Linked DNA regions of Homo sapiens: region 2 is linked to region 1. Evidence: fine-mapped expression QTL. Tissue or cell type: whole blood. Region 1 holds a variant in brackets; the other region holds the start of a gene. All regions are shown on one strand. Distances are between the middles of the regions.

Region 1 (15,107 bases):
AACTCTTCCAGCAAACATTTTCCCTTTCAACTAATGGCATAAATAGAGTTCATGGCAGTTTATGATTAAAATAACCAACTTGACTGTTGTCCCTGTGGCTTCTTCATACTACTTTCCCAGAGTAATCAGCGTGCCCTCAACAAATATTTGCTGAACCCCTACTCTGGGTCCAATATGGAGACCAAGAACACCAAAGCAATCAAAGCCATATATGGTCTCTGCCTCATGAAGTTTCGGGTCTAGACAGAAAGGAGAGGTTCATCAAATAGTCACGCTAGTAATTACATAATTATCAACTATGACAAAATTTATGAAGGAAAAGTTCACAGGCAGAGGACAGCAGACCAGACTCATCTGCAGGGAAAGGGCTACTGGATCTGCTAGTTAGCTAAGCGAAGCAGGGGAGAGGGGTCCACAGAATACTAAGTAATGAAAATAGCATGTGCAAAGCCCCCAGGGTAGAAGGTACCTTCAGCCATTGAAGCTAATGCACAAAGAGCAGAGAACAGCAAAGATGAGATTAAAGAGGCAGGCAGGAGCTAGAACACACAAGCACTGTAGGCCGTGGTAAGGACACAAGCCTTCATTATAAGAGCCCTGGGGAACCACAGTAAGGCTTTAAGGAGCAACAAAAATAGGAGCAGTCCCCTGAAGAGACCAATGCATCTGCAGTACAGAGAATGAAGAAGCAAGGGTGAGGATGGGTGCAAAGAGACCATCTGGAAGCACCTCTGGGAGAGATGATGGTAATGCAGATTTGTGGGAGCAGAGCTGGAGAGACATGGACACGTCAGAGAAGTATTTCAGATGGAAAACTGATAGGACCTGGTGTGGGAGTGAGGCTAAAAGCATGAATCTCACCCACAGATGGACAGTGGTGCCATTTTCTGACTATGGCCCCAATGATGGAAGAACTCACAAGAATCCCATGAGTTCAATTCTGGAAGCGTTAAGTTTGAAATACGTTGAGGCATCCACAGGACGATGTCTGCTTAGTCGACTACTTGATAAGTGGATGTGGAGTAGAAAAGAATGTCTGGTTTGGAGACAAAAATGGAGTCATCGCATGGGCAGAAGGGAAAAGTAAGAAGTAAAAGGAGAAAAGGTGGCCTAACATGAGCTTTGAGGACCCTCCTAGAGGTGACTAAGCCAGAGCAGGAGCAGCCTGCTGGGAGGAGGAGACCCAGGTGGACACAGGGGCCTGGGAGCCAAGCAAAGCAAGCGCTTCAAGAAATAGAGGAGAGGGCAACGAAGATCTGAAAGAAATCACAGGCACTCATAGACATGAACGCCAAAGCCATGGACCTTTAGACATGCCATTTCAGTGAAAGGACTCAGAGAATTAGTCAACTGCTGTGAGTATGCCTCATTAAAATTGTCCTCACAGCCTGGGCATGGTGGCTCACGCCTGTAATGCCAACACTTTCGGAGGCCTAGGCAGGCAGATCGCTTGAGCCCAGGAGTTTGAGACCAGCCTGGGCAACATGGCAAAACCCCGTCTCCACTAAAAATACAAAACTTAGCTGTGCGTGGTGGTGCATGGCTGTAATCCCAGCTATTCTAGAGGCTGAGATGGGAGGATTGCTTGAGCCCGGGAGGCAGAGGTTGCAGGGAGCTGAGATTGCACCACTGCACTCCAGCCTGGGTGACTGAGCAAGCCCGTCTCCAAAAAAGAAAGGAGGGGAGGGGAGGGGAGAAAAAGAAAAAGAAAAATTGTCTCCACAAGCAGAAGGAAGATATTTAATTTCTTAAGAAACTGAATTCCCAGGCTGAATCCCTTCTTTTATAGATGACGAAATCTTACCATGAGGGAGTGACTGGACCACAGTCTCCCAACAGTTACAGAGCCAGGAGGTGACACCTATGCTGCTGGCTCCTGACCTTCCTCCCCACCTTCCCCACGTTCCACGAGCACTCGCCCTACTTCATGGCAGAGCTGGCTCATGGAAACTCAGCACTAGGGCCTATCTTCATTTCTCTGATGTAAGTACATGAAAACCAATCTCACTACACAAAACCAACACTTGCTAAGTGTGAGCACTGCTTTGTCTTCTGGGCTTACCTCCTTGATTGTGGTGTTTCTTCCCCTCCATGAAAACCACCATCTTCCTCCCTTTTTGGGCATTTTATCCCTCATGATAGATTCCACAGTGGCCTGTTTTAAATGGATGGTAACATAAATAATGGAACAAAAAAAGATCAACTTAGCACATTCAAACCAAAAGAAACATACATGCAAATTAAAGTAAGATTTAAAAAAAAATCAGAGAAAACACAACATACTATTTGTGCGTTAAAAATTTTAGAGAAGCAAAACCTAATGGCGTCCAAAATTACATGAAGGTAACTTAAGCATGAAGACTTAAGAAGATGTTAAAGGAATAAACAAACAACAAATAAAATACAACACAACAACAACAACAAAAAAAGAAAGCATTAGAAATCATTAGTGATTAGTAAGACTGGAAGTTTTCAAATTAAAGTGGCTAACTGGTTAAGATATCATTACTCTCAATATGATGATTATCAAATAAAATATGAAATGATTAATATGGGATAGAGGATAAAACAGTTTTCAACAAAAGGTAAAATGCATAAGATTTTTACTAAGGGTAAATTTCTAAACATTTGCATTAATAGGTACATTTGATTTAAAATCTCGAGTATTAAAAAGAAAATTCATACTTTTAGGTAAATGGGTTTAATGGGGAGATTAAATATGAATTGATAATTTTCTACGTTTTTCCAAAGAACAAAATACCTATCTATCTTGAGGTTAATTCCAGGACCAAGGTAAAAGTTAGGTAATGTCCCTTCCTCAGTTTACAGAACTTTCAAGAAGCTGACACCTCAGCTAGTAACAAAAGAAAGATTTAAGCTGAAAGATTCAGTCTAAGGGAAGCAGACAGATAAGTAATTTACTATGTAGCTTAAAAGATCCCTATCTGACACAAAAGAAAACCCAACTGCACTAAAATGCAAACCACTCACATCCAGCTCATAAATAGGACAATTGACAAAGCTGTGAATGACCCTATTTCCCCTAAATCCACTCATAAATGTAACAAAACCACATTTTTTTTAAAAAAAGAAAGCAGGCCAAAGAAAGGAAAAAAACAAACAGGAGTATTTTCAGTCCTTCACAAACTGATTCTAATGTTCATTTGAAAAACAAACAAAAATAGCCCAGAAAATTCTCAGGCAGAAGAGTAGTAAGTAGAACAAGCACTACTGGGTATTAAAATATACCAAAATATATGGTAACTAAAAGAATGCAGTGTTGGTATACAAGGACACATATCACAGGAACAGAAAACGAAGTCCAGAAATAAATCTAAATTCACAGAGACACGTAACAGAGGGTGAAGTTGTAACTGCCTCTGAGTGGAGGATAGGGTTAGTTAATACACGGTCCTGGGATAATTCAGTAGCCATGTCAGACCCTGTGAGCAGCTCATCTGCCTCCCCTTTCTTGCTGACAGATCTGAAACTCTGTTCAAGAATCAGGCTGCAATGCATGCGGAGAAGACTGGCTCAACTCCAGAGGATGCACCTCAATGGTCGAAGCCGTTCACAGTCATTTCATTGCTTTGCCAAGAAGTGCTTTAGTGGTGATCATGTGACCAAGTCTTGAACTATGAGAGAGCTGCCCCTACCCTCCCGTTTCAGATGCGGCAGTCTGAGCAGACGATGTGTACGGCAGTCACCTTGTGACCATCAAGGAAAAGCTGAGAAAATCACAAAGAAGCTAACCCAAATTCATCAAGCCTGAAACTGCCAACCTCTAAGATCCTCATCATATGAGATCATTACTTAAGCCACTTTTAGTCATTCTGTTTCCTAAAACAAAAATCATCTTCACCAATTCAATAACTTCCTGAGAAAAAAACTGGTTTGCTTCCTAATACCTCTCATTACACTTGAAACAAAATCTAGATGGATGAAAGATTTTAAGATCTTTCGAAATTTCCAAAACTTGTAAAAATATGCCCCATATACAAGAAAGCACAAAAAGAAAATATAGGGCCTATCTTCACAAGTTTTGGAAATGGGGAAGCAGGGCCATTTTATGTGTGATACAAAACCCAACAGCCATAAAAGATAAGATGGGCAAATTCTACATTTAAAAATAATTTCTATATTAGAGAAATGCCATATATAGTCAAAAGTTACTGACTTGTAGAAAGATTTAGCATGCATATCACAAGGACTAATGTCTTTTAAGTTTCAGAGCCCATGTGGATTTCTTCTTCAGTGAATAAATAAATCCTTTAGCTATATTGCTATTGCAATGGCCTTTTTTCTTACGGATTTGTAAGTGTTGAGAACGGTGACATAAAAATGTGTCCCAGGCCATGGATACCATGGCAGGGACAAAATAAAAACCACTCTGGAGAACATGCCCTCAGCCCAGTCCACAAAGATAATCAGATAAAGCACCACCCAGGATGAGACTGCGGTCCTCAAAACACAACACATGCACACACACACACGCACACACACACGTGCACATCCACATCCACACATGCACGCACACATGTGCACATCCACACATACATGCACACGCGCACACACGTGCACATCCACACATGCACACACGTGCACATCCACACATATACACATGCACATACACACACGCACACACATAAGGCACACACCTGCACAAGCATGCACACATACCCGCATGCACACACATACATGCGCACACACACGCATGCAAATGCATACACATGCACGTATGCACACATGCACATGAGCACACACTGACACACAGGCACAGGCACACACACACACACACACAAACCCAGGAAGCAGCAAGCCTAGACTCAACAAAGTCCAATTAGACCTTCAAGAATCTCAAGTGTTTGAACTGGCTGACCGACGGCAACATCCTAAGCCATACAAAAGCTTGCTAAGCGCACAAAGGATACAAACAAGCCTAAGGCAGTCTCTGCAGCAAAGAACGTATAATCTAGCAGGAAGATCTATCATTGAAAAAATTAACAACTCCAGGCTGACTGTCTAGTGAATTGTTTGGGGTAGGATGAGAACACTGCAGACTGGCAGGTGGCGTGGCTGCCCTCCTAACTCCTCCCTACGGCCACTTACCTACTCTCCCCTGCAGACTGGGAGCTGTCCAGGCCCTGTACTGGCTCTGGCCTCAGAGACTCAGGCATGGGGCTGGCTTCCTGGCTGAGCAGCACTTGACACTGACACTTGACACTTGACACAGGGCACCTGCACCTGACCCTGATGCCTGCTCCACCTTTCCAGGGTGACAATCATCTCCCTTTGTCCTCACTGGGCTCTGAGGTCCTGGCACCTGTCTGCTCAGCCTCCACCTGTACCCCTTGCATGGCAGATATTGAGAAAGGAATCTTCGGTCCGCTCGACCATGATTGGGAGGTTTTGCCTTGATAAGGAAGAGGGGCAACCACGTGCAAGGTGCAAGAGAGAGATCAGAAACTCCTGGCCTGTATGCTCATGAACTTCAAAAGAGCACAGTGGAATTAACTCTGTAGTTTCCAAAATAAAAGTGAAATTCCAACCACCCCAGATTAAGCTACCCATCATTTCTAGCATCCCCTTTTCTTTCTCATGTTAAAGCTCACCTTTGGCAAAGGTTTCTGGAAGGCCTGCATTGCCAGGAGGAGGGGTGCTGCTGTTGTCCAGTTATAATATCTAACACAAAACAATGAAATATATGTCAAAAAACCGAGGCTCAGACTGAAAACCTTTCCAATGTCATATAAAGTAGTCAAGGAAAGCTCGGGACTCCAGCGAGGCCCTTAAAGAGCTCAATACTCTTGCTAGCCCCCAGCCCTCCTCCATATCACCCCTAGGCAGAGGCTCCCCCCACCTCACCCCAGCGGCCAGTTGAGGGCCCAGCAGCAGCCGTGCCAGCAGGGCAGACAGTTGGACATGCCAGCAGCCCAAATCCCACCGTACAGCTGCTGCACCAAACCACGACGTGCTTGGGGTATTTCTTGCCACGTGTCAAGGTAAAGGCAACTAGGTGTAAAACATCCATGGCTTAAGGGAGAAAAGCTTGCTAACAGTCTGCAAAAATACCTGTACATCCCTTGCCCTCAGATAATGAAGTTTTTCTTTTCTTTTTTTTTTTTTTTGAGACAGAGTCTTGCTCTTTCACCCAGGCCAGACTGCAGTGGCGCTATCTTGGCTCACTGCAACTTCCGACTCCCAGGTTCACGCCATTCTCCTGCCTCATCCTCCCGAGTAGCTGGAACTACAGGCGCCCGCCACCGCGCCCAGCTAATTTTTTGTATCTTTAGTAGAGACGGGGTTTCACCGTGTTAGCCAGGATGGTCTCGATCTCCTGACCTCATGATCCGCCTGCCTTGGCCTCCCAAAGTGCTGAGTTTACAGGCGCCAGCCACTGCGCCCAGCCGATAATGAAGTTTTTCAAAAGGGTAGAGATGTAGGCTACTCTGACATACCCATGTACTGCAGAGTGTGACTATTCACATTCAATAAGAACATCGAGCTGGGTGTAGTGGCTCACACCTGAAATCCCAGCACTTTGCGAGGCGGAGGTGGGAAGATCTCTTAAGCCCACAAGTTCAAGGCTACAGTGAGCTACAACTGCACCACTGCACTCCAGCCTGGGAGACAGAGCTACACCTTGTCGCAAAAAAAAAAAAAAAAAAAAGAAAAAGAAAAGAAAAGAAAACTCACAAGACTGAGAGCTATCTGAACCTATCAGCTATATTGCCAATTCTATTGGCATGGAACCCTGACCACAGTGAAGATAATGCAATAATGCAATGTAGCAAAGTCTTTATTTTATATATTTCTAAGGCTTAATGTCTAGGTCTATTTGAAAACATGAAACAGAAACAGTATCATGCTACTGCCAAAGTGACTTTCAAGAGGTACTTACTTACTCCCAATCTTTACCACGAGATTGGGGTCATCGATAATAGCGGGGTTGTCCACAAACTGTTGATATGACACAGCTTGCTCCAGGAATGCATCTGTGACAGCAATTGCAGAGGATCAGGGAAAAACAAAAAGAAAATTCAGTTCAAAATTAGGCCTACCTTTCATTTGCTCACTCACAAGTGTTTTCTGAGAGTTTGTGCATTCCAACTGTGCAGACAATCCTATAAAATGTATTTGTAAAGGCCGCACCATTTTACCTGGAAGGCGGCGTCTGTGCAGCAATGCAGGGAGGCCAGGGCAAGGCTGAGGATGTTGGGGGACGTGTACCTTAGTTGAGGCACATACGTTCACACAGGGAGTAGGGGTGAAAACAGCACACACGTGCATCTGCACAGGCAGAGTCATGGCTACGCATGGCGCAGAAGCCAGGCTCCCTCGGCTGAAGTCACGATTACGGGGGTAACCCTGGGCAAGCGGTTCACCTCCCAGGCCCCAGTTCCCTCCTCTAGCATGGGGATAATAACCACATCTGCTTCCTAGGGTGGTCATGGGGACTGATAATGTCGTAAATAGAAAGCACAGGGCCCTTTCAAAAATGGGGCTGCCTCCACCACAATCAGAAGCAGGCAGGGCACTGTTCTCATCATGGTGGGGCAGCCCCACCAGGATCAGAGCAAAGGAGAAGGTGGCAGGGTCAGGAGGCCCAGACCTCAGCCCCGGACCCTCAGTTCTTTGACGGGCTCTGGCAGCTGGGCTGTACCTTAAGCCTTGACCGCGGTTCTGACCATCTCCCTGGCCCAGAGCCACGCCCACTCCTTCCCTGGGAGCTCCTATTTACCCTGAACCGAACCGAAACCCAGCAGACATCAGACACTGAGAATCTCCTCCGTCCAGGAAAAGAGTCCCTGGGTCTTGATGCCAGCCTGACTGGCTTCAACATGCACCCTCAGAGCCCTAATCAGGACCTCCGGGGACTCTCCTGGGGTCTCCTGACTGTGACGATCTGGCCTCACCTGTAAGGACTGGACAGCTGCAGATCCTGGCCCCATGAGATAACACTCAGATAACGGTGCCCAGCCTTGTCAGTGCTGCCACCCCACCCCCACCAGCTCATGTATATCAGGGAGGGAACGCCCAGGGGACTCCTCACGCCAGTGTCCAGAGAGCCCCCATGACTTCAGAAACACAGTGAGGCTGGGTATTAATGTGTGGCCCTAGGAAAACTGAGTGAATGAATGGAGCCGGCGGGACCCAGCACACAATCTTGTTTCCGCTCTCAAGGGACTGGCTGGCACGGGCGTGAGAACAAAAAGGTCTCAATCTTTGCGGAAGAAAAAATTCCCAAAGCCTTGAAGGGACCAGGGTGGAGGCAGGAGTCTCACATGGCAGCCCTGGTTGGAAGGGGAGATGGGGGTGGCTCCTGAGAGGTAGAGGGAAGAAGTACACAGCCTCGGCCCCTTCCCTGCTAGAAATACCACGAGGGGATGGAAAAGAGGCAGTGGTGAGAGAGGGGGCGGGAGGGGTGCAGGGCCACTGTGTCTAGTCCCCAGCTGATAACTGCTGACTGCACCCACTGGGGGGCGTGGGCACACCCTGCCATGGAACTGTCAGGAGGCCCTGGGAGTGCATTGCTACGAATGTGGCAGGTGCTGTGAATGAATCACCTAAGCCCACCCGATTAACGCCCTTTGAATCCAGCTGGGAAAAGTTCCCAGCCCTCCTCCGACAAACTCAGACCTCCCTGTTCCAAGGCGCCGGCGCACTTCTCTCTCGCTGCCGACACCCTCTAATTTAATTAGACTGACACCCCCTCTAGCCTGCAGGCCTCTGGAGGCCATCTCTGCAGTGCTAGCCTGGGGCACAGGAGACACACAACGATGGCCCGAGCCATGGGTGACCCACAGAACTCTGAGGCCGACTAACTGCAAGCCAGAAACATCGGGATTATGAGTTCGGTGCTATCATCTGTGCTATCATTAACCGCAACCAAGGGAAAAGCTGCCTTGACACGCACTCCTTGGAGAAGCCTAAGCCTCTGCGCCTTCTGACCGGCGGCCACCAGAGGGCGCCCGCGCGAGGCCCGCGGTACCTTTCGTGATCTCCCGGTGGTCGCTGAGGCCCCCGCAGAGGGAGATGGCGATGGAAGGGAGGTCCCTCAGCCCGTCCGAGGTGCTCTCCACGCCACTGTCCACGCCCGAGCTGCCCACCGACTGCGGGGACTGGTTGGCTGACCGGGCTCCGTTGTCGCTTGCATGTTTTGCGAGTCCGGAAGGATCTCCGCTGGAAGGAGGAAAAGCGGCAGAGACCGGCTGAGGACTGTCCCAGTTCAGGGTCCTACATCACCATCCAGTGATGCTCTGGCACGCGGCCACCCTCAGAGCCGCAGACGGCTGCATCTCAGCACAGATGTTTATTAAAGCACCACGACAAGGAAAGAGACATTAAACGCCTTAGCTTAGGAGAGAAAACCATTACTTCTCAGCTGGCTGCATCTCCCTGTATCCCCCTAAAATATACTGAAGAAGAAGCAAGCTGTCCTCCCTGTTCCCTGCCCTTCCCCTCCAGGCGCCAGCCCTGCCCTAGATCGCAGGGGGACTGAGGGTGGGTCCCCAGGATCACGGGAGACCCTCCTGGGGGAAAAAAGGGCTGCACAGCTGCCACTTACTGGGCTGTGGACCACGACCACTGTGGACAACATGACCTCAGGCTTTGCAGGGAGGGCAGCCCGGTGCTGCGCCCCTGTCCAGAGGTGGGGCGCCGCCCAGTACCCGCACCCTTATGTCCATAGAGCAGGCGCATTTCACAAGGCAATGGGAGCCTCCCACTGCCTCTCTCTCACACTTTTTTTTTTTTTTTTTTTTTGAGATGGAGTCTCACTCTGTGGCCCAGGCTGGTGTGCAGTGGCATGATCTCAGCTCAATGCAACCTCCGCCTCCTGGATTCAAGCAATTCTCCTGCCTCAGCCTCCCGAGTAGCTGGGATTACAGGTGCATGCCAGCACGTGCAGCCAATTTTGGTATTTTCAGTAGAACGAGGATTCACCATGTTGGCCAGGGTGGTCTTGAACTCCTGACCTCAAGTGATCCGCCCACCTCAGCCTCCCAAAGTGCTGGGATTACAGGCGTGAGCCACCGCGCCCAGCTGTCTTGCACACTTTCTAATCAAACATAAGGGGAAACTGGTCTCACACAGAATGATATTCAGATTATAGGAAATGATGTGAGGAATTAACAGGAATTTTACTTTTTGGGAAAATACAGGGCCGCCACTTCAGGATCCATGTCTGTGAGGTCATCCAAGTAGACGCCGTCAGCACCAAGATGTCGGCTTCGTTTATCTAAAACGGCAAATGGCTCAAGTCAGAAAACCACTCTTCTAGAAATGAGCTCATGGCCTTGTATCTATAGAAACAGCATTTAAACACTATGTGCAGATTTGCTCCCAGGTACTCAAACTGCCCAAGAACCACAACAGTTCCAAGTGTGTTCTATTTTGTCTGGTAAAACAGAATGGCAAGAGCTTTTTAGACAAATACTTTGAGGTTTGGGCACAGTACCGTTGAGGGTGAGGTGGTTTTGATGGACTTATTCCATGATGTTGCTGGAGAAAGAGTGGATTGAGGTCACACTTGTAGGTACCGAGGCCCCTCGCTGGAGGCCACAGCCTGCGCTTTTCCCATTGGAAAATGGTGGGCAGTACAACGTGACCGTAGACCACCAAGGTCCACAAACCAGGGCCGTCATCCACCATCGTGTGGCCTGGATCAAGTTAGTTAACTTGCTGAGCCTCATTCCTCCTCTGTAAAGTGCCTGAAGTGTACTGAGCACTAAACGCATTGAGGCTATTACCATTATTATTACACTTATTATGAAATGATAAAAGCTTTTATTAGGCACTTCCCCATCAATACCCCGAGGCAAAGCATCCCACACTGTGCATTGTCAGACACTGGCCATGATGACTTCAAATGTCCTCTTTACTTCTAGCAGAAAATGATGTAATTGGTCCATATAATTCTAGAAAACCACACGAAGCTGCTGGGTGGATGGAGATCAGGCCTGGCATCGTTGATACTAACACACAGCCAGGAGTGCATTAAACCAACACAGAGCGCCCACTGTGTGCCAACCACTATGCCAAGCGCCGAGGAGAGAAAGGCAAGTTAGATAGAAAAGACTCTTGATCTCAGACAGCACATATTCTATGGGGGAGTCAGGCAAAAATAAATCAATAAAATAATGATCATTTGAAATCATGATAAATGATATGCAGAAATTACAGTGGGTAAGGGGCTGGAAAGCAACGCAGGGCAAGGAGAGAGGTGGCCAGGATTAACCTAATAATCAGCTTTATAAAAGTCACACTTATGGGTCCCATGGTGTGCT[G/A]GAAAGGACTTAACTCTCCCAGGTCTCAGCGAGCAGCCTCAGTGTGTAAAATGAAGTTTGCTACATGATCCTCAAGGCCTTCTTCATGTCTGATTTCCTATGACTAAATTCCGATAATTAATATATTCTGCTGAAGAGCTCAGACTGAACATGATCATTGTCACGGTTCAGTTTCTACCTCAGTTTCCTTGGAACTTTGGAAAGGACCTGTCATGTGTAGAGTGAGCACAAACTATGAACAGAAAAAGAGCCGGGAAGCCCCAGCCTTGGTACCTCTTTTCCTGGAAGGAGAATCCGTCTTGTTTGCTGTCTGGACTACACTGGCAGAGGGGGGTTTGAGCTCCTCGATCATGGGCAAGAGTGGCGCTGCTGCTCCTAAGGTCTCCAGGTCTTCTTCATTCACAAACTGCATTTCTGTCTGAGGCTTGTTCTGGTCCAAAAGTGCCCCACCGACCAGAGTTGGCGATTGGTCACTAAAAGTGTCTGAAGATTCGCTGTGAATGGCCTGAAAGTGACTTTTATCACAAATTTTTCTACTGCTCAATGGGCTGGACTCTTTCATCTTGTGTGGAGAAGAAGACTAGAGCAAAGAGGAGAGAGGGACAGAGAGAGAGACAAGGTCAGCACAAAGGCAACCAGAAAAACTGAGTGACCCAAGGAGAACAAGTAATCAAAAGTAGGCAGGGACTTTTAAGCCTCAACAATCACCTGGTGATTTCTATACCTGCCAAAAAGTCCAGAAACCAAGAATATTAGGTCCAAAGCAAATGAACTTTCCTGTGAAACATCAACTGCCAAAGAGAAGTGAGATTAGCAATGCCAACAGGCAGGAGCACCCTAAATGCTGTTAGATTACAAGTCTTTTCACACACACTGGGATTCTCAGTGGCCATGAGAATAAATGAATTACAGCTACACCAACAACATGAATGAATCTTGCAAAACTAATCTCTGTTGCTAAGATCAAGTTTCCCCTTGCAGGGAGCAGAGGGGTCAGTCTGAGCAGTGACCGCAAAGAGTGGGGGTTTCCATGCTGCTGGTCATGCTCTGCTTCTCGGTCTGGGTGCACGCTGCACAGATCTGTTCCTGCTGTGAAAATGTATTGAGCTATACATTTACAATGTGTGTATTTCTCTGTATGTATATTTCAATAAAGTTTATTCCCAAAACATGAGTGAATAAGTAAAGATTTGGTGACAGTTGGTTCACATGAGTGAGAAATTAGCATTTCTGATTCTACCGCCAGAGGGATTTCCAGTTACAGAAAAGATTTATTCAAACAAAAACCAAAATGCAATTCATGGGCTAAAAAGAGGGGAGAAAGTATTCACTTCTCTATCTGATCAAACAGCTTCAATTGCAAATAAAAACAATGCTACAGAAAATCTGTGGTTACAACTATTTTGCCAGAAGAAGTGATGGATTTGCACTTCCATGCTGTTTCTCCAGCAACTAACGACATAAACTTGCAAAGAGAGTTGGCTGGGTCAGCACCATAGCTGTGGACAGGTAAATCAGCATTTTCTATGAAATCTAAATATAACCTAGAGAGGAAATGGATCCACAACTTTGGCCTCAACAGACTACTCTCCAAAAAGCTGCCCATCTTGACTCTTTATAAGGGATGTTTTCAATAGTCATTCACTCACTCACTCACTCATTCATTCATATTACAAACATTTATTGGGGATGCAAGAGGCTATAGCATCTTCTAAGGACCTTACAATATTTTTTAAAGCTTGTGATATAATAACATAATTCAAGATGCTTATAATACATTAGCATACCAAATAAAATTTCTTGAAAGAAAAGATTGTGTTCATTTCATGTTTTTAGAAACATATTTGCTGAACCAGTTATGTACCTACATGTAAACCCACTGCATATCCAAGATAGGGAAACTGGGGCTCAGCGTGCATGTACCACAGCCAAGGAGAAAGAATGCAAATATTCAGAGGGCCTACAGGTGCCAGATACTTCACATACCTACATTAGCCCTTCTAACCTCACAACAATTCTGTCATTTTCTCACAGTTTTACAGATGAAGACACTGAGGTTCAGGGAAGTCTACTCATTTGCCCAAGGTCACCTTTTTAGCAAGCGGTGCAGTGAGGACTCAAACCCAGAATAACCTGCTGCCTCCCAGGCCCTCATTCTCTCCGCTACCCTCAGCTGCTTCTCTATTTATTTTGGAGATCTCCATAGGGTCAAATTCAGGGTCCCACCAACAATGAGGGCCCAGAAATACTTACTACTTGATGAATCAAAACCTTAAGGTTTTCTGACTTTGTTTATCTATTAGGCTGAAATCTTTCATTTCTGTTCTATTAGCCTTTCCCTCTCCCAGGGCTCTCCCAGATGTCTCTCTGTGTGAGGGACACAAGAACATGTGGATTCCAGCTCTTACAACTCAGCTTCTTTTTCAATGGGCCAAGAGTCCACAACTCTCTCCCTGTGGCTTTGCTCCACTCATCAATGACCTAGCAGACTCAAGAGCTGGAAGCTATTTTTGTTTACAGTTTCAAGACAGCAAGATTGTGTGTAAGTTGTATTTCTTTAATTTAATTTGCATTTAGCTGTGATAGAAAATGTAGATCCTGGCTGGGCACGGCAGCTCACGCTTATAATCCCAGCACTTTGGGAGGCAGAGGCAGGCGGGTCACTTGAGGTCAGCAGTTCAAGACCAGCCTGGCCAACACGGTGAAACCCCGTCTCTACTAAAAATACAAAAATTAGTGGGGCGTGGTGGCATGCGCCTGTAATCCCAGCTACTCGGGAGGCTGAAGCAGGAGAATCGCTTGAACCTGGGAGGCAGAGGTTGCAGTGAGCCAAGATAGAGCCATTGCCCTCCAGCCCGGGTGACAGAGTGAGACTCTGTCTCAAGAAAAAAAAAAAAAAGTAAATCCTAAGAGGAATCCCATAGGTTTAAAATCTACAAAAGCAATGAGACCTCTCTATAATGTTGGTAACGTGGAAGAAAGTAATTCCAACATTCAAGGCTAACCCTTAATATATTTTGGTTTACCTCTGGCTCCTGGTAGCTGTGTTTCTTGGCTATGCTATGATACTAATTCCATGTAATTTAAGCTGAGTTAGAAATCTTCGGTCCGTGGCAGAATTGAAGAGACTCTCACCTTAGCAGCCTGCGGCAGCTCTCCCCACAGCCAAAGCATTTCTGGGTTCTTCTGCCCTGTCCTTTCCGTGGACTTGCTGACCAATTCTGAATCACTTTTAGGTGTTGAAGGTCGGGAACCGGAAGGACTTAAGGAAAACACAAAGCGAAAATTAAGGTGGGAAAAGAAACTTTTGTAAATGTTTTGGGCCCAGCTCCATGGCTCAAATAGCCCAGAAAATGCACCCCCAGCTGTCGTTCGCTCTGAGCGGAGCCTCATGACAAATCCCTCCTCCGGCCACCAGGGGGCAGGGAAGCGCCTCCCATGGAAGGCGCTCCACGTGGGTCGCCCGCCCCACCCTGCCGCCTGGTGCACCGCGGGGGAGAGGAGAAAAAGAAGTGGCCCAGAATACAAAAGAAAGAGATGGAAAGAGAAAGGGAAAAATAGTCTGTTCTTACCTCAAAAAGACCACCCTTCCCCACCCCACTCTGCACTCGCATCTCCTGCAATCTGTTTCCAAATCAAGTTCCTCTGCTGTCAGAGGGCTGCAAAAGGGTCTTGGTTGGCTCGGGCAGGCACTCATTAGAGTCCATATTTTAAATATTTATCATCTGCACTGGCCTGGGAAACAGGGAAATTATATGATGTGCCAATTTTACCAAAGATGCTGGATGCCACAAATAAACTCGATAACGTTGGGCAGGA
Region 2 (15,107 bases), 40 kb after region 1:
CGGCAGGTGCTTAAAGGGCACCTGTGGGCTTAAGGCACATCCAAGGAGCCTGGTGATTCAAAAGCCAACCTAATATCACTCTGGGATGGGGTGCCCCTTATCTGTGTTCCTGTTATCAGCAGGAAATTACAGCTCTCAGATACAGACCTGGCTGCTGCTCGTGGGGCCAACGGATCATGTCAGGACAACTAAATGACCACCCCTGGCACCCTTCCTCTAGGGAAGGCACTGTCGGCTCCCCAGCTGGGCTTGACAGGGACGATTTTGGGGCTTCCTGCTCACTGCCCTAGCCGCCCTCCTCTGAGCACACTACAGTCAGTGTCTCAGCACCTGGGGACTCTATCTGTGGTCCGCCCAGCACTGGATAAAGTCACAAACATCACGCTGTTACTGGTGTTCGCCGAGATCACATCCACCTTGGAGGTTTACAAGACAAATGAGGATTTTCATCCAAAGCATTTAAAAACACAAAAAGCTTCTAGGAAGTGCCCAAAATGGTATCATGACTAATAAGACTTGCATGAAAATGAAATTGATTTATAAATAGTGTTAGCTTCCTCCTGTAATTTACACTTACGGCAAAGAGGAAGTCTTTTCAGAGCATTGTGGACTGATACTTAACGGCGGTTGATAAGGGTGATGAATTACCTGTGACAAAAGAGGAAGTCTGGCTCAGACTCAGGGTGATACAGGGAAAGGAACACAGACAGAAAGTCAGGCCACCTGGGCAGCAGCCCACGCCCTGCTGTAACTGGCACACACTTATAGGCAGCTGCTGCCCTCTGCCAGGTCTGGATTGACTGAGTCCACCAGCGTCCCTGTGGTTAAACTGTCCTGGCCAGAGTGCCTTGAGGAGCTTCTTAAACAGAAGAGCACAGCTCTGCATCCATCACTACCTGCTGGGAAATTGGGGACTTTCTTGGCATGCCAGGGTTCGTGAGACATTCCCGTCCAAAATACAAAAACTCACTAGAAAAGCTGGAGATGCTTTAAAAGGCCTGCAGGTCAGAGGCCCTGCAAGTCAGAGGCCTTTTAAAGGTCTTTCAATACTTCCTGACAAAAGTGATGAAAGAGCAAAAACAGCCAGCCCTGGGGTCCCGCCACCAAAGCCCTGCCTGTGTTAGGCAGGTGGGAAATTTTGCAGCTCTTGCAGTGAGCTTCCAGGGTGGCAAAGTGGCAGGCGTCTCCTCCTCCAGCACACCCCCACCCTGCTCATCCCCCTCCTTGCCCAGGGACAGGAGGGCGTTCCCATAATTAAGCTCATCTGTAGAACTCCAGCACACAGCAGACGCTCCAAAGCATTCACGACCGCAATTTCATACAGTTCCAGAAAGGACAGCACTGCGGACACTGTCAGGATGAGGTGACAGAGGTCACATGGTTTCTTGCCTCACGATTAAATTAGAAAATTCCACATTTATTCCAAAATTGGCAGAATCCATCTCCAGGCTTCACAAATTGCCAAGAAACGCTGCTTTCTTGGAACTGCCAAAATTCAAAACCCCTGCCACAGCTTTCCTAACCCCACAATTTTTGCCAACACCAGCCACCTCTAGAAGATTAAGGTCAGTTTAAAATGGCCTTGGAGGCCGGGCGCGGTGGCTCACGCCTGTAATCCCAGCACTTTGGGAGGCCGAGGCGGGCGGATCACGAGGTCAGGAGATCGAGACCATCCCGGCTAAAACGGTGAAACCCCGTCTCTACTAAAAATACAAAAAATTAGCCGGGCGTAGTGGCGGGCGCCTGTAGTCCCAGCTACTTGGGAGGCTGAGGCAGGAGAATGGCGTGAACCCGGGAGGCGGAGCTTGCAGTGAGCCGAGATCCCGCCACTGCACTCCAGCCTGGGCGACAGAGCGAGACTCCGTCTCAAAAAAAAAAAAAAAATGGCCTTGGAACAGCTCAAAAGAAAAAATGGACAAAACATATAGACAGTTCACATTTGGCCAATAATATATGAGAGAGATATTCAACCCCATTCATAATTAAAGATACAGGAATCGAAAGAGGCCTTTCAGATGGTCCAAAATCAAAGCATTTCATTAAAACCCCAGGGCCCATGAAAAGTAGGAGAATCAGACATCGTCACTCACTACTAACAGGGTCATAAATGGGGTAAGCAATGTGGCAATGCCCATCTTTTGGGGCACCTATTGGCAAACCCTAGCAACTATACCGCTGGGAACTGATTGTACAAATACAGTAAGATCCGTGTACAAAAACAGTAACTGTAGCATTAATTGTAATAGGGAAAATCAGAAATAACTTAATATCTGTATGACTCTGGCTTAATAAATTATGGGCCATCCACATTGTAAAATGGAATATTATGAGGCTGATAATAAAATGGTAGAGAGGTAGCTCCATAAATATTAACATGAAAATGTATATATAGAATGAAAACAGGTACAAAAATACTTATAATATGGACCCATTGTGGTTTTTTGTTTGTTTGTTTTGTTTTGTTTTGAGACGGAGTTTCGCTGTGTTACTCAGGCTGGAGGGCAGTGGCGCAATCTCGGCTCACTGCAAGCTCCGCCTCCCAGGTTCACGCCAATCTCCTGCCTCAGCCTCCCGAGTAGCTGGGACTACAGGCGCCTGCCACCAGCCTGGCTAATTTTTTTGTATTTTTAGTAGAGACGGGGTTTCACCATGTTAGCCAGGATGGTCTTGATCTCCTGACCTCGTAATCCACCCATCTCGGCCTCCGAAAGTGCTGGGATTACAGGCGTGAGCCACCGCGCCCAGCTGGACCCATTTTTAAAAAATTACATTTGTACATATTTTGATATGCATAAAAAAATTCTGGAATGAGATACATACAAAACAAGATTCACAAGATTCACCCCTGGGGACCAGCCTGGGAAAAGGAGGAAGAGATCTTCACTTTTTATCATAAATACTTCCCATAGTGTTGCTTTCTAGCTTGTGTTTTTTATGTCTGCATGTATTTCATGTCAATTATTAGTAACCTCAGAGAACTGGGAGTGAAGGATGGAAAACTCTGGTCCACTCAGTCTCAGGGTCTCCATCACTGAAACCACTGAGACAGGACAGGGTGCTGGACAGGGGTACTCCTGCTTTGGAGGGAAGGTCAGATGAGTGATCACTCAGCTCCTCCAGCGCTGACACTTTGCAACCCTCAGATACCACAACCCCAGGTGACGCTTGTTCTCACGTTCCTGCCAAGAAATACAAATGGCCTGGATAAAGGTGGGTGTAGACATCTAAATATGGTATGACAACTATGCTGAGCAAAACAGCCCAAGGCTTTGACTCCGATCCTTTGGCTCTTAATTATTTAGCTCACTGATTAAGGACAGGACGTTCTTTTCCTTCAAAGACCCAATGGCACATTCTCTCTACGCACTTTCAAGAGCCCTCTGTCCAAATTCGTGTCTTGGTCAAAAAGAATGCTCTGCCCTTATAACTTTATTTCTGTATTACCCCCCACCCCTACCACACCCCAGCAATTGGGAGGTGGGCATATATCACCTGGGTGTTCCAGGGCACTATTAGGAGACAATATAGCTCAGCAGGTAAGAGCGCAGGCTCTGGAGGTATTCAAATCCTGCCTCCACCTTCCACTAACTCTGTGATCAAAGACAGGTTACTAAGCTCTCTGCACTGCAGTTTCGCATCTATTTTATAAAAAGGGATGACATCAGCACAGCCACCTCATAGGACTGTTGTGAGGCAGTAAATGTAAAGTACTTTTCAAAGCACATGCACCAAATAAAAACCACGTGCTAATTCTGTGACCACAAACTGGTTCCAGACAAAATCCGGTCTTTGAATAACGTCTCTTGCCAGAGGGGACTTTGTATATATCACCTATTTAAATAGTACCTTCCCAAAAAGACAGAGGCAAAGAATATTACTAGTTAAAATGAATACAGAACTATTTGAAGGCTATGCCTACATTCCACATTCTCATTTGCCCAAAATCTGAGCCCAAAGAGGCCACCCCGAGACTGGTGGCATTCTGGCATTGCACAGAGTCCAATGGTGGGACATTGTTTTGCCAGAACAGTTGTCTGGGCGCCTGTCTTGTCTGGTGCCCATTATCCTAAAACCCTTGTTGCTTGTCTCCTGTCTTGTAAACTGAAGACCTACAGCCTAGTGAGATCCATGAACGCGGAGGACGACTTCATCAAAAAGTGAGTGTGTGTGGCTAGGGGACAGAGGGCAAGGGGAGAGGTGCGAGGGCTTCCAGGGAGCGAGGCCGGGGAGGGGAGGGGGGCACAAGTGCGTGCCAGCAGGCAAATGGGGGTGTTGGTTGTGTCTCCCATGCAGGGTCTGTGGTCAACTTTGTGAGCCAATGCAAATCAGCTCACACTCAGGAACAAACAGGCCTCCTTACAGAGCAAAGTGCCTGTTCTAACAGCCTATGGCTATTTCTGGAAAGCCCCAGCATTCAGCATCAGCCGAAAATTTTAAGTTGTTGCAAGAATCACAACATTTGGTCAGTGGGTTGAAAAATCCACTGTAACCATGACCCTGTAGCCATGACCACCGGTGTGAAAATGCTTCTGGCTTCTCTCCTGATGGAGCCCAGTCCATCTGGTTCCTCCCAACCTCTCAGCTGGGAGTGGGAGCGGCACAACGCGCCCTGCATCCCTCAGTGTGCAGAACAGCCTGTGGGCCAGACACTGCTGAGGTTTTAAGACTCCTGGGCCACATACCTCATTGTGAAAAGTGTCAGCCTGGGTCTGGGTCAGCCCAGACCCAGAGCTTTCTACAGGCAGAAACTCACTACTCAACATATCCCTGGCTGCACAGACCCCACCCCAACCCCAGCTGCTAAGGGCTTGTTGGGGTGAATTACAGGTAGGGAGACAGACAGGGGAAAGCTGTGGAAAGAGGAAGAGGAAGGGAACCCACAGGAAGGGAGGTCAGGGCACTTGCTTCGGACCCCAGCAGCCCCAGGGCCCAGTGTGGCCTCCTAGGGGGCACAGATTCCCTTCAGGCGCTGGTGCATCCTCTGATCAAGGAGCAGGGCCAGTGTGGGTGTGTCCCCTCGACACACAGGCATGGGCCCCTCTCTCTCTCCAGACCCTCCCTCACAGCTCAGAAAGCGAACATTTCAGAAACAGCCATCCGATAGGCACCTGGGCCTCTTCTGAATGAAGAACCTGTGACGTCACTGAACGGCTTTGCTTGGGTTTTGTCCCAACTCTTTTTTCCCCACACACCCCGTTCCAGTTTTAAATGAGTGGGCTTATTATACAATACATTGGTCCAGGGTTCAATAAAGTGTCAAAATTGTGACTTTGCCCTTCTCAAGGAACAAGCCCCAAAGCTGCTAGTGGGTGATTCCAGGGACTTCCTCCTCAGGACCCCTCAAAAGCTCCAAGATCCCACGCCCGGGCTACCAGTGAGGAAGTGCAAGTGCAAACAGGTCGAACCACCAGCCTCGGTGTCCTGGCGGGACCTAACACCTGGATGTCTCTCAAAATGCTCCAAAAGCTGCCGACATCCGTGCAACAGCCCCCTCCCACCCTAAGGAAAAAGCTGCCTGTACCCCTCGACTACCCCCATTGGCAGGCTTGCCCAAATCAATTAACCTCATTTAGGTACCTTTTAGGCCTTGAACCCAGTACACAGATGGTCCGGAAAAGCCAACCGGAAGAGAGGTGGCAGGCAGGGGGAGGGGGTGTCCCACAGGGATGATTTACAGAGCAGAGGCCGGCGTCAGCCAGGACTGTCCCAACCCCACAAAGAGCCCCTCCTCGCTGGCACCCTGTGGCACTTTAAAATCATAACAACCACAATGATTCGTGGACCCCATATTATGTTCCAGGGGCTCTTTTTTATCTCAATTAATTTTTGCAACAATCCTGTGAATGGGTATGATTATCCCTTCATTTTACAGATGGGAAAACTGAGGCTCAGAGGATTGAAGTCTTCTGCCCAAGTTCTACATCTGTGAGTGGTCAGAACAACAACTGCAAAGCCCAGTGCTCTGTGCCGGCCTCGGCGCATCTCAGACCACGGTGGCCTCAGGACCTTCTTCTGAAATATCTTTTCATCTCCTGACCCTCCCCTGCCGTCTGTTCTGGGCCCTTTGTGCAGCTGACCACGCAAAGAGCAGGAGAGCAGGACCCACAGACTTCCTTCTGGCTGGGCCAGGCCAATTGTCCCCACCTAATCCAGGGCAGGCTCCTTCTCAGTCACTTCCAAGGTCCCCCCTACAACCAGGAATCCCTGCGGTCTCTCACCTGAACCCTCGCGTTCTCTCCCACACCACAAGACTCAGCAGGTCCGCCCCTTGTCCCCCTGTGCTTTTCTAAAAGAAAGGAACTGCTGATAAGCGAGACCTGGGTGGGTGAAAGAACTCGCTCAGGGTCCCACAGAGCTCAGGCAGAGCCCAGACCTCCCGACCCGAGTCCAGGGCTATATCCAGGCCTGGCTCCACAGGACCACAGGGCCCCACATGCAAATAGGAATAATAAGCGCCAAAACACACAACCCATGCACAAAAACACTCAATAACAAATGCTGGCAAACGTGAAGTGCTATCAAAGTATATAATCATAAATCCAACTGTTACACCTTTCAACAAGAATCTGGGAGCAAGAAAAGTGTTCATGTGTGGATGTGCTTATTTCTCAAATACTATACATTCCTCAACTGCTTACTTTCATTAATAAGACCCAAATTACGGAACAAAGGATAAACAGTCAATCTCACAATCACTACCCCTAGACCACCATACCACAACACCCCCAATTAAAAAAACGGCTACAAGCTTTGATTTCCCAAAACACTTCTATCCTGTGGGAAACTGCCGGGTTCTAAAACATCTCCAAATTAATACTGCCAGTTGTCTTAGTTGGTTTCCTGCTTGCTGATCAAAAACAGGGTTGACATCTGCTTTCTCCAGCAACTACTGACCACACAAATTACCTACTCTAGCTCCACAGCACTTAAGTTACTCCCAAAACGTTACTTCTCATCCTGCATTTTCCTGGCCTTGCCCATAATAAAATTACGTGCAGGAGCAGCTGACGGAGCTCACTAGGCCTAGCACCTCCTAGGCTGCAAGAAAGGTGCAGAGGCCTCGCAGGGGAGAGCTGTAATATGAGAACCGGGATTCCAACCTGGGCTCAGCCTGCCCTGCCGCCCGGCAACTGTATGACCTTGGGCACAGAGGTCAACCTCCCTGAGCCTCAGTTTCCTCAACTGCAGCGCTGGAATCCTAACTCCGGGGGAAAGAAAGGCTCTCATCCCAGTCCCCGGCGCAAAGCTGGGGATGATCGCGCAGAGCCAGGACGCACCCGCGCTGGCCGGCTGGAGCTAGTCCCCGCGGTTCTGGGACTGCGCGGCAGCCCCCAGTGGCCCCTACGCCGCTCGAGATCAGCCAAGCCGGGCCCACACCGGGCCTCGCGGCGCGTCAGGAAAGCCAGGCCCGAGGGATGCTCGCGAGGCCCTCCCGGCCTCCGGGGCCTGTTTCCCCGCCTCCCTCCCCCGAACCACTTCCCGTAGAGGGCCCCGGGGACGTAGCCCGGCCGTCGGTCCTCGGGCCCCGGGGCCGAGCCCCCGCCTCGCCACGCGTCCTCAGCGCCCCGGCGCCGCGCCCCGCCCCGCCTAACCCGAGGCTGCGGCCCCTGCTCCACAGCGGGAGGCTGGAGGCGGCGGCTACTCACCGAGCGGCGCCGCGCGTGGCCGCCTTTGTATTGCAAACACCCAGCCCGCCGCCGGCTGTCAGCGCAGCTCGCCTTCGGGGGCGGGGCAGGGGCGGGGGCAGAGGGCAGGGGCGGGGCAAGCGGGGCGGTGCGAGGGGGACTCGGGACGCGCTGGTGGCCCGGCTGCTTTCAGGGCCTGCTGGCCGGCCCTGCCCGCTCACCCCTGGCCGCCTATCTTAGCGTTCCTGGGGGTGGGGCCCCTTAGGCCGCCTTTCTGATTTTCCTTTCCAGAGCCAAACTCGTGTGTTTCTTCAACACTCTGACTTGACCTATGCCGATGACTGGGGGAGTGAGGACGGAGGGGTGCAGAGAAAAGGCAGCCAGGTAAAAGTCCAGGTAAACCACCCAGGGCCTGGCCGCGATCACGTCGGTCCTATGGGTCCCGCTTATCACCAGTGGCGGGATCTGAGCCCGTCCTTGACTTTACTGACCCTCGCCCTTCGTTTCTTCCACCTTAAAGGCGCAATCGCGTTGACCTATCGCCATCTCTTCTTAGCTTCTCCACGCCGGGCCACCCCTGTCCTTCATCCTGATGGTGACAGCCTCCACTCCCGCCTCTGCCAAGCGGTGGTCCAGGTGCGGAACGGTGGCTCTGAACAGGAGGGACAGGCAGCTCCCTGCGCCTCTCCAGCCGGGAGGCAGGCAGCGGATAAACAATGAGCCACATAACGTCTGGTGGTGAAATGATTTCCATCAATGGGAGGGTGTCATATTTGAACTGAAACTCTAAATGACAAGAAACACCTATGACTACAAAGATGGGGAGGAGGCAGGGCTTTCTGGAGAGCAGAAATGGCAGGTGCAAAGGTCCTGGGGCCGGTGCTGTGGGCTGGAGGGAAGGCAGGGGCCAAATATTCAGGTCTTGTAGGCCAAGGCAAGGAGTTTAGGTATTATTTAAATGTTATTCCAAACCAATTCTTTTTGAGACAGGGTCCCACTCTGTCACCCAAGCTACAGTGCAGTGGCACAATCTCGGTTCACTGCAGCCTTCACCTTCTGGCCTCAGGCAATCCTCCTGCCTCAGCCTCTCAAGTAGCTGGGACCACAGGTGCATGCCACCACGCCCAGCTAATTTTTCAAACTATTTGTAGAGACCAGGTCTCCCTATGTTGCCCAGGCTGGTCTCAAACTGCTGGGCTCAAGCAGTCTTCCCACCTTGGCTTCCCAAAGTGCTGAGATTACAGGTGTGAACCACCACGCCTGGTCCAAAAAGAATTTTAAACCTGGGAATTATATGATCTAATTTACTTCTTTAAAAAGTCACCCCTCCACTCCATGGAAAATGGACTGCAGGAGTAGAAGCCAGCAGACAGGTGGCACTGCAGGAAACCGGGGGACATGATGGTGGCTCAGATTACAGGGGCTACTCAGCAAGAAGCGGAAGGACTTCAGAGAGATTTGGAGGCAAAACCCACAGGCTTACTGATGAATGGAACCGGTGGAGGTGTGTGATGCGATACTCAAAGGCAAGTCTCAGTGTGGAGATGGAACCGCTGCTCTGCTGAGATGCAGAGGGCCAGGGAGGAGGCCAGCTTAGAAACAGCATCGAATGCGGCAGCTTAGTGAATTGGATAAGCCAGCAAGCTTGAGATAGATGTTTGGGGACAGCTGCTTGGAGAGCTTTGTCCAGGGGCGCGGCTCCCGTCCATCTGGTCAAGTGTGGACACGCTCCCGCTGGGCTTGGGGCAGCTCCTATCTAGGCAGCCTGTCCCATGCTGACATTGCAGACGTGGGAGCTACACAAAGAGAATCTTGCAGTTTGTAGGTGAGCTACCTCCACAGGGGTTTTCTCAGAGACCAGAGTTTCAAGTGCATCACGGCTGCCCAAAACTGCTGAGGTTGCAAGGCCCCAGAAGGAAGCCCTCCTGCACCCTCCCCTCCCACCTCCAGGGAGGAGCTGGCCTGGGAAGAAGTCTACTCTATGTGGAAAGGCTTTCCAGGAAGCCAGTCCAACTTCAGGCCACTTAAGTTTATTTTTTGTGTAAAATAAGTCCATTATTCAAATGTGGAGATGGGAGGTCTGAAAATATAGGACAATTCAACTCAAAGCCCTCATTCTGAAAATGATGAGCTGGGGGGCCCAGCACGGCTAGGGTCAGCTCTGATGAGCAGGGTCTGGCTGGATTCAGAGCAAATTAGGTCCCGCTGCTGCCCAGCCTACCACCTCGGGGAAGGCCAAGGGTTGGGGGGAGCCTTTTGTATAAACAAGCAATGAGAAGAAAACACTCACTAGATCACAGTGCACTCCCAGGCGATAAACGAAACCGGACTTTCCAAAGCCCTGGCGCTTTTGATCAGGCACTGGCTGGAGTCCCCCTGGGAGGGCCCTTGGCTGTGCTATCAGCAACCAGGCCTGACTGAGCAGTGACTCAGCCAGGAGAGCTGAGGCGATCCCCCTGGCCAATCCCAGGACCTAGCTGCACTCGGAAGAGGAGAAGGAACTCCAGGGATGAGTAATCTTGCTCTAGCTGACTGGAGGAGGAAGGAGGGGCTGAGTAATGCCTTAGCAAAGCCAGCACAAGCATCCTGATTCTAGAGGCTCAGTTTCACAATCCAGGAAATGGGCTGCAGGTGCACATGACACAGATCTGCTTTGAGGATGAAAAAGGCATCATGGGAAGCTGCTGTCACAGTTGTGGGGTTGGAAGATTTTTCAATTCTAAAACCCCATAAGTTGAGGAGTGGCCATTCCCAGAAGGATCTGTTCACTGCTGAGCCCAGCTGGTGACAGTAGCTGTTGTATCCCGAGAACTCTGAAGTTGTCCAGATCAACCACCTACACAGGCCCAGAATACCTGGGGCAAGGTAGGCGGGAAGAATGAGCATCCCTCTTCACGGGTGCCCTGCGAGCTACTGTAGGAAGGAGAAACACTGGCTGATCCCCCAGGACTCTGAGCATGGTTAGCTCTGTAACTGCCCGGGCAGAAAGGATCCCAAAGAGAGGACAATGAATTCTTCCCCTAGAGGTGCAGACTTTTATCCCTGGCACCAGTGCCTGGGGCTCCGGGGAAGGGAGGGCATCTCCTCGGGGTCTAAGGCCACTCCTTGGTTGGGGGCCCCTCACGAGGTGACTTTGTCCTGCGCACTCTCTTAAGAACCAGGTGGGAACCAGGGGCCACCTGGTGCCGCTTCACTACCTTGGTGGCAGGGAACAGAGCAGCCTGGGAATCCACCCAAGGTGGAATGGGGCCCCCTGGGTGCTGTGGCTGGCTGAGCAGGGAAGTTTCATGGGGAAGAGGCAGGTGTAAAAGGTTCTGGGTTCCGCAGGGAGAGGACAGTGATCCTCGGAGAGCAAACAGCTGGAACCAAAGCACAGAAGGTTTTGACGGTCACCCGGGCTATCCAGAGGCCCACTTCACAGTTAGGGCAGGGCCTGCAGATTAGAGTTGAGGCACAGGAAGTGGCAGAGTGATAAAGGCTGACAGCTGGACACACAGGAGCATCTTGGAGGCCCTAGGCTGAGCACTGGGGGCTACAAAGGGGAGCAGACCAGACACAGTGTCTGTCCTCAGGGAGTGCACAGTCTGGGTTGTGATCGCGTAAAAACTGTCACAGTGCTTCAGGCCGCTGTGAACTGAAGGGCCGTGCACTGATGCAGGATTTGACCTGCCCTGTCCCCAAGCAAGAGGATTCACCTGACCTTGGTGGCCTAAGCAGGCACCGACCTAGGCAAATCTAGGCCAGGTGTCAAGGAGCAGAATGAACCACGGGCCAGCCAGCAGCACATGCACAGCAGTCAGGCACGCACAGGTGCTTGAAAGAAGGCCGTGGCTGGCCGCTGGTGGGCGGGGGAGCTCGGGAGCTCACAGCAAGCCCCATGCCTGTCTCCCACTGGATGAAGCCAGAGGGGGTCTGGAACGCCCTTTCTCCTCTGGTCAGATTGGGAACAATTCATAATGAGCGGGGCTAAGACACAGAACAGCAGAGAGGCAGGAAAGAAGAAAGAGACCAAGGTGCGAGGAGCGGACAGGGAAAGAGACCTCAACATGACCAGGGATGGGAGGAGAGAACTCCATTACTTAGAAACAGTGGCTGCTATGCTGGGAAGTGTGGACTGTTACAGTGGGCTCTAATTCCAGGAGGAACAAAAAGACCCCGCATATCACCATGAGTCAGTCCTCTGAGTCGCCATGACCCATGACCTTGCTAAACAAGTGTGGGGCTGTCACAGCCTTAAGCAGCACATCTCAAGTCTCACATTCTCCAGTGCTAAGAAAACAGCTACACAGACAGAATGCTAAGGAGAGCTCAGAAGTAGAAAACCCTTAAGAGTCCCCCCTTCCTTAGATAGGAAAACTGAGGCCCAGAGAGGCAAACAATGGGTCAGTATGTGTGTCTAAACTTATCTAAACATAGAAGAGGTATAGTAAAAATACGGTATTAGAATCTGATGGGAGCACCATCGTATACGCAGTCTGTAGTTGACCAGAACATTGGTATGCGGCACATGACTGTAGATCTTCTCATTAATAATAGGCAACCTGGTCAGGTGCACGAAGTCTAGGGTTCAGAATCCAACAGGCTCAAATTCAAGTCCAGCTCAGCCACGTGGCTGAGTGCTGTCTGAACCTCAGCGTCCTCAGCTGTTAAACAGAGGTAACCATCCCCATCTCAGCAGCTTTGGGAGGAAATTAAATGAGATATATTGGGATCCAGATAACCAATAAAATATCAAATCACTTTACCAGTTCAAGCTCTTACCACTCAGTGATTGCATGGACTTATCACTGACGAATGAACTCAGGAGTTCAGGAGTTCGAGACCAGCCTGGGCAACATCCTCACCCAGCTAATTTTTGTTTTGTTTGGTTTGGTTTTGTTTTTGAGATGGAGTCTCACTCTGTCGCCCAGCTGGAGTGCAGTGGCACGATCTCGGCTTACTGCAAGCTCCGCATCCCAGGTTCACATCATTCTCTTGCCTCAGCCTCCTGACTAGCTGGGACTACAGGCACCCGCCACCTTGCCCGGCTCATTTTTTGTATTTTTAGTAGAGACAGGGTTTCACTGTGTTAGCCAGGATGTGTATTTTTTTATAGAGACAGGGTTTCGCCATGTTGCCCAGGCTGGTCTCAAACTCCTGAGCTCGAGTGGCAATGTTTGGAACCAATTTACGCAGTTCTTTTCCTTGCAGTTGCCAAACAATATTATTTATCTAATGGTCATAACACCTTAACAGTAATAGAACTACTGAACAGCAGTGCTTACTCTGCTCATGGATGAGGTTTCTAGTTGTCTTCTGTTAAGCAGGTGGCCTTGAATTCTGGCAGCTCACGCTTCAGAGTTACCTGTGGACACACGACATCATTCACAAAATGTTCTTTTTCTCTCCAGTGTCTCTCGAGAATGAAAATGACCAGGCCATCCTCACATTCTACAGAGGTTAACCCAGCAACTTAGGGACACAGCTGGGGCAGGACTCCCGGGCTCCTGGTCAGTCCCTCTATGGGGATGCTAAGCCTCAGGGCTGACATCTCTTAGCTCTGCCTTCCAGGGAGAATTTCACAGGGCCTCCCATTTGTGCTGCTGTGAAGGCCGTCCTGCTCCTTGTCAAGCCTGTCTTCTCCGTGGCTTGAGGAAGATCTCTTTCGTGCCCAAATTGTGAATAAGTAAACTGGATGCAGCATCTCTGATTGCTCTGGGAAGAAATTTATGAGAAGTGCCTGAGAAAAGTCATGATTTTATGCCTCTGCTAAGCAACCTGTTGGACACTGCTTGGTATCTACAGCTAAGTGGTTCCCTGTTCAGACCTGCTTCCTCTGATTAGCAGCCACAGATCTTCTGGGTTTTCACTTGTTTATTTCTGTTTATTGTCATCTCTGGGAAGATGGCTTCAAATTTTTTATCCCCCAATTATTTAACCCCATATCAATTGATAAGAAGATCTTTTCTTTCTTTCTTTCTTTCTTTCTTTTCTTTTCTTTCTTTCTTCCTTTTTTTTTTTTTTTTTTTCGAGATAGAGCCTCACTGTGTCACCCAGGCTGGAGTGCAGTGGGGTGATCTTGGCTCACTGCAACCTCCACCTACCAGGTTCAAGCAATCCTCCTGCCACAGCCTCCCAAGTAGCTGGGATTACAGATGAGTCCCACCACACCCAGCTAATTTTTGTATTTTTTTTTATAGAGACAGGGTTTCGCCATGTTGCTTAGGCTTGTCTGGAACTCCTGAGCTCAAATGATCTGCCTGCTTCGACCTCGCAAAGTGCGGGGAAGTTATAATTGAAGGGTGTGATGGTTAATTTTTGGTGTCAACTTGACTGGGTTAAGGGATACCCAGATAGCTGGTACAGCATTGTCTCTGGGGATGTCTTTGAGTGTGTTTCTGGTAGAGGTTGGCATTTGGATCAGTGAACTGAGTGAGGAAGGAAGATTCATCCTCACCTGTGTGGGCTGGGCTCCATCCAATCAGTTGAATTCCTCAATAGAACAAAAGGGCTGAGGAAAGGCAAATTCACTCCCTTTTCTGAAGCTGGGACACCCTCCTTCTCCCGCGCTTGGACATCAGCACTCCAGGGTCTCCAGCCGTCGGACTCCAGGACCTGCACCGATGGCCCCTCAGGTTCTCAGGCCTTTGCACTCAGACTGAGCTATGTCACCAGCTTCCCTGGTTCTCTAGCTTGTAGACAGCAAATCATAGGACTTCTCAGCCTCCATAATCATGTGAGCCAATTTCCAAATTAAATCCCCTCTCATTTATCTATATCTCTATCTATCTTATTTGGTTGTTTCTCTGGAGAATCCTGATACAAAGGGTTTACATTGAATGTCATTCGCATATGGTTATATAAATAGTAGCCGTTTTAACACCCTCATCTAATTCTATCATGAATGTCATTTCTGGATCTGTTTATATTGATTGATTTTTCTCCAGATCCTAGGTCATATTATCCTGCTTCTTTGCAAGCCCAGTATTTTTGTTTGGACACGGGACATTGTCAGTTTTGTACTGTTGGTGGCTAGATTTTATTATATTCCTTTAAACAGTGTTGTGCTTTGTTCTGAGATGCAGTAAAGTTACTTACGATTAGTTTGATCTTTTTGAGCCTTGATGTTCAACATTGTTACGGCAGATCCAGAACAGCCTTTGTTTTAGGACTAATTTGTCACCTCTTTGAGGCAATTCTCTTCTACTTTTCTCCTCGATGTCCTGAATTTTAGGGGGTCTTCCCAGTCTGGCTGATGGAAATGTAGTTTTTGTTGCATAAAATTTACCTCAAAACTTAGCAGCTTGAATCAACAGGTATTTATTCCCTGCAGTTTCTTGTGTCAGGAATCCAGGAGTGGCCCAGCTGGTGGCTCTAACTCAAGCTCTCTCGTGAGGTCGCAGTCAAGGTGATGGCTGGATTGGAGCCCTCTGACTGGGGCCAAAGGATCTGCCTCCAGGACGGTGACTCACATGGCTGTAGCCAGGGGCTCCATTTCTTGCC

Evidence for each region.
Region 2: it holds the start of LPIN1, and the variant in region 1 is fine-mapped to the expression of LPIN1 in whole blood (TOPMed, PIP above 0.99).

The regions. Positions count from the first base shown.
Region 1 is chr2:11,778,962-11,794,068 of GRCh38, reverse strand. LPIN1 (lipin 1) reads right to left here. Exons shown (of 21, transcript NM_001349206.2): 7 at 14,424-14,550; 8 at 11,562-11,868; 9 at 10,147-10,240; 10 at 8,993-9,183; 11 at 6,902-6,995; 12 at 5,613-5,682; 13 at 2,063-2,155. Among named protein-coding and RNA genes, the nearest start is that of MIR548S, 19 kb to the right of the region's middle. RefSeq lists a silencer at 9,052-9,346 and an enhancer at 13,942-15,107. The variant G/A (reference allele first, on the strand shown) is at 11,289.
Region 2 is chr2:11,739,211-11,754,317 of GRCh38, reverse strand. LPIN1 (lipin 1) reads right to left here and starts at 7,686. Exons shown (of 21, transcript NM_001349206.2): 1 at 7,647-7,686. LOC124907735 (a long non-coding RNA gene) reads left to right here and starts at 8,859. Exons shown (of 2, transcript XR_007086220.1): 1 at 8,859-10,490; 2 at 13,016-14,382. RefSeq lists enhancers at 314-523, 4,661-4,710, 4,731-4,990, 5,763-6,434, 8,946-9,519 and silencers at 4,141-4,200, 7,438-8,007, 14,861-15,107.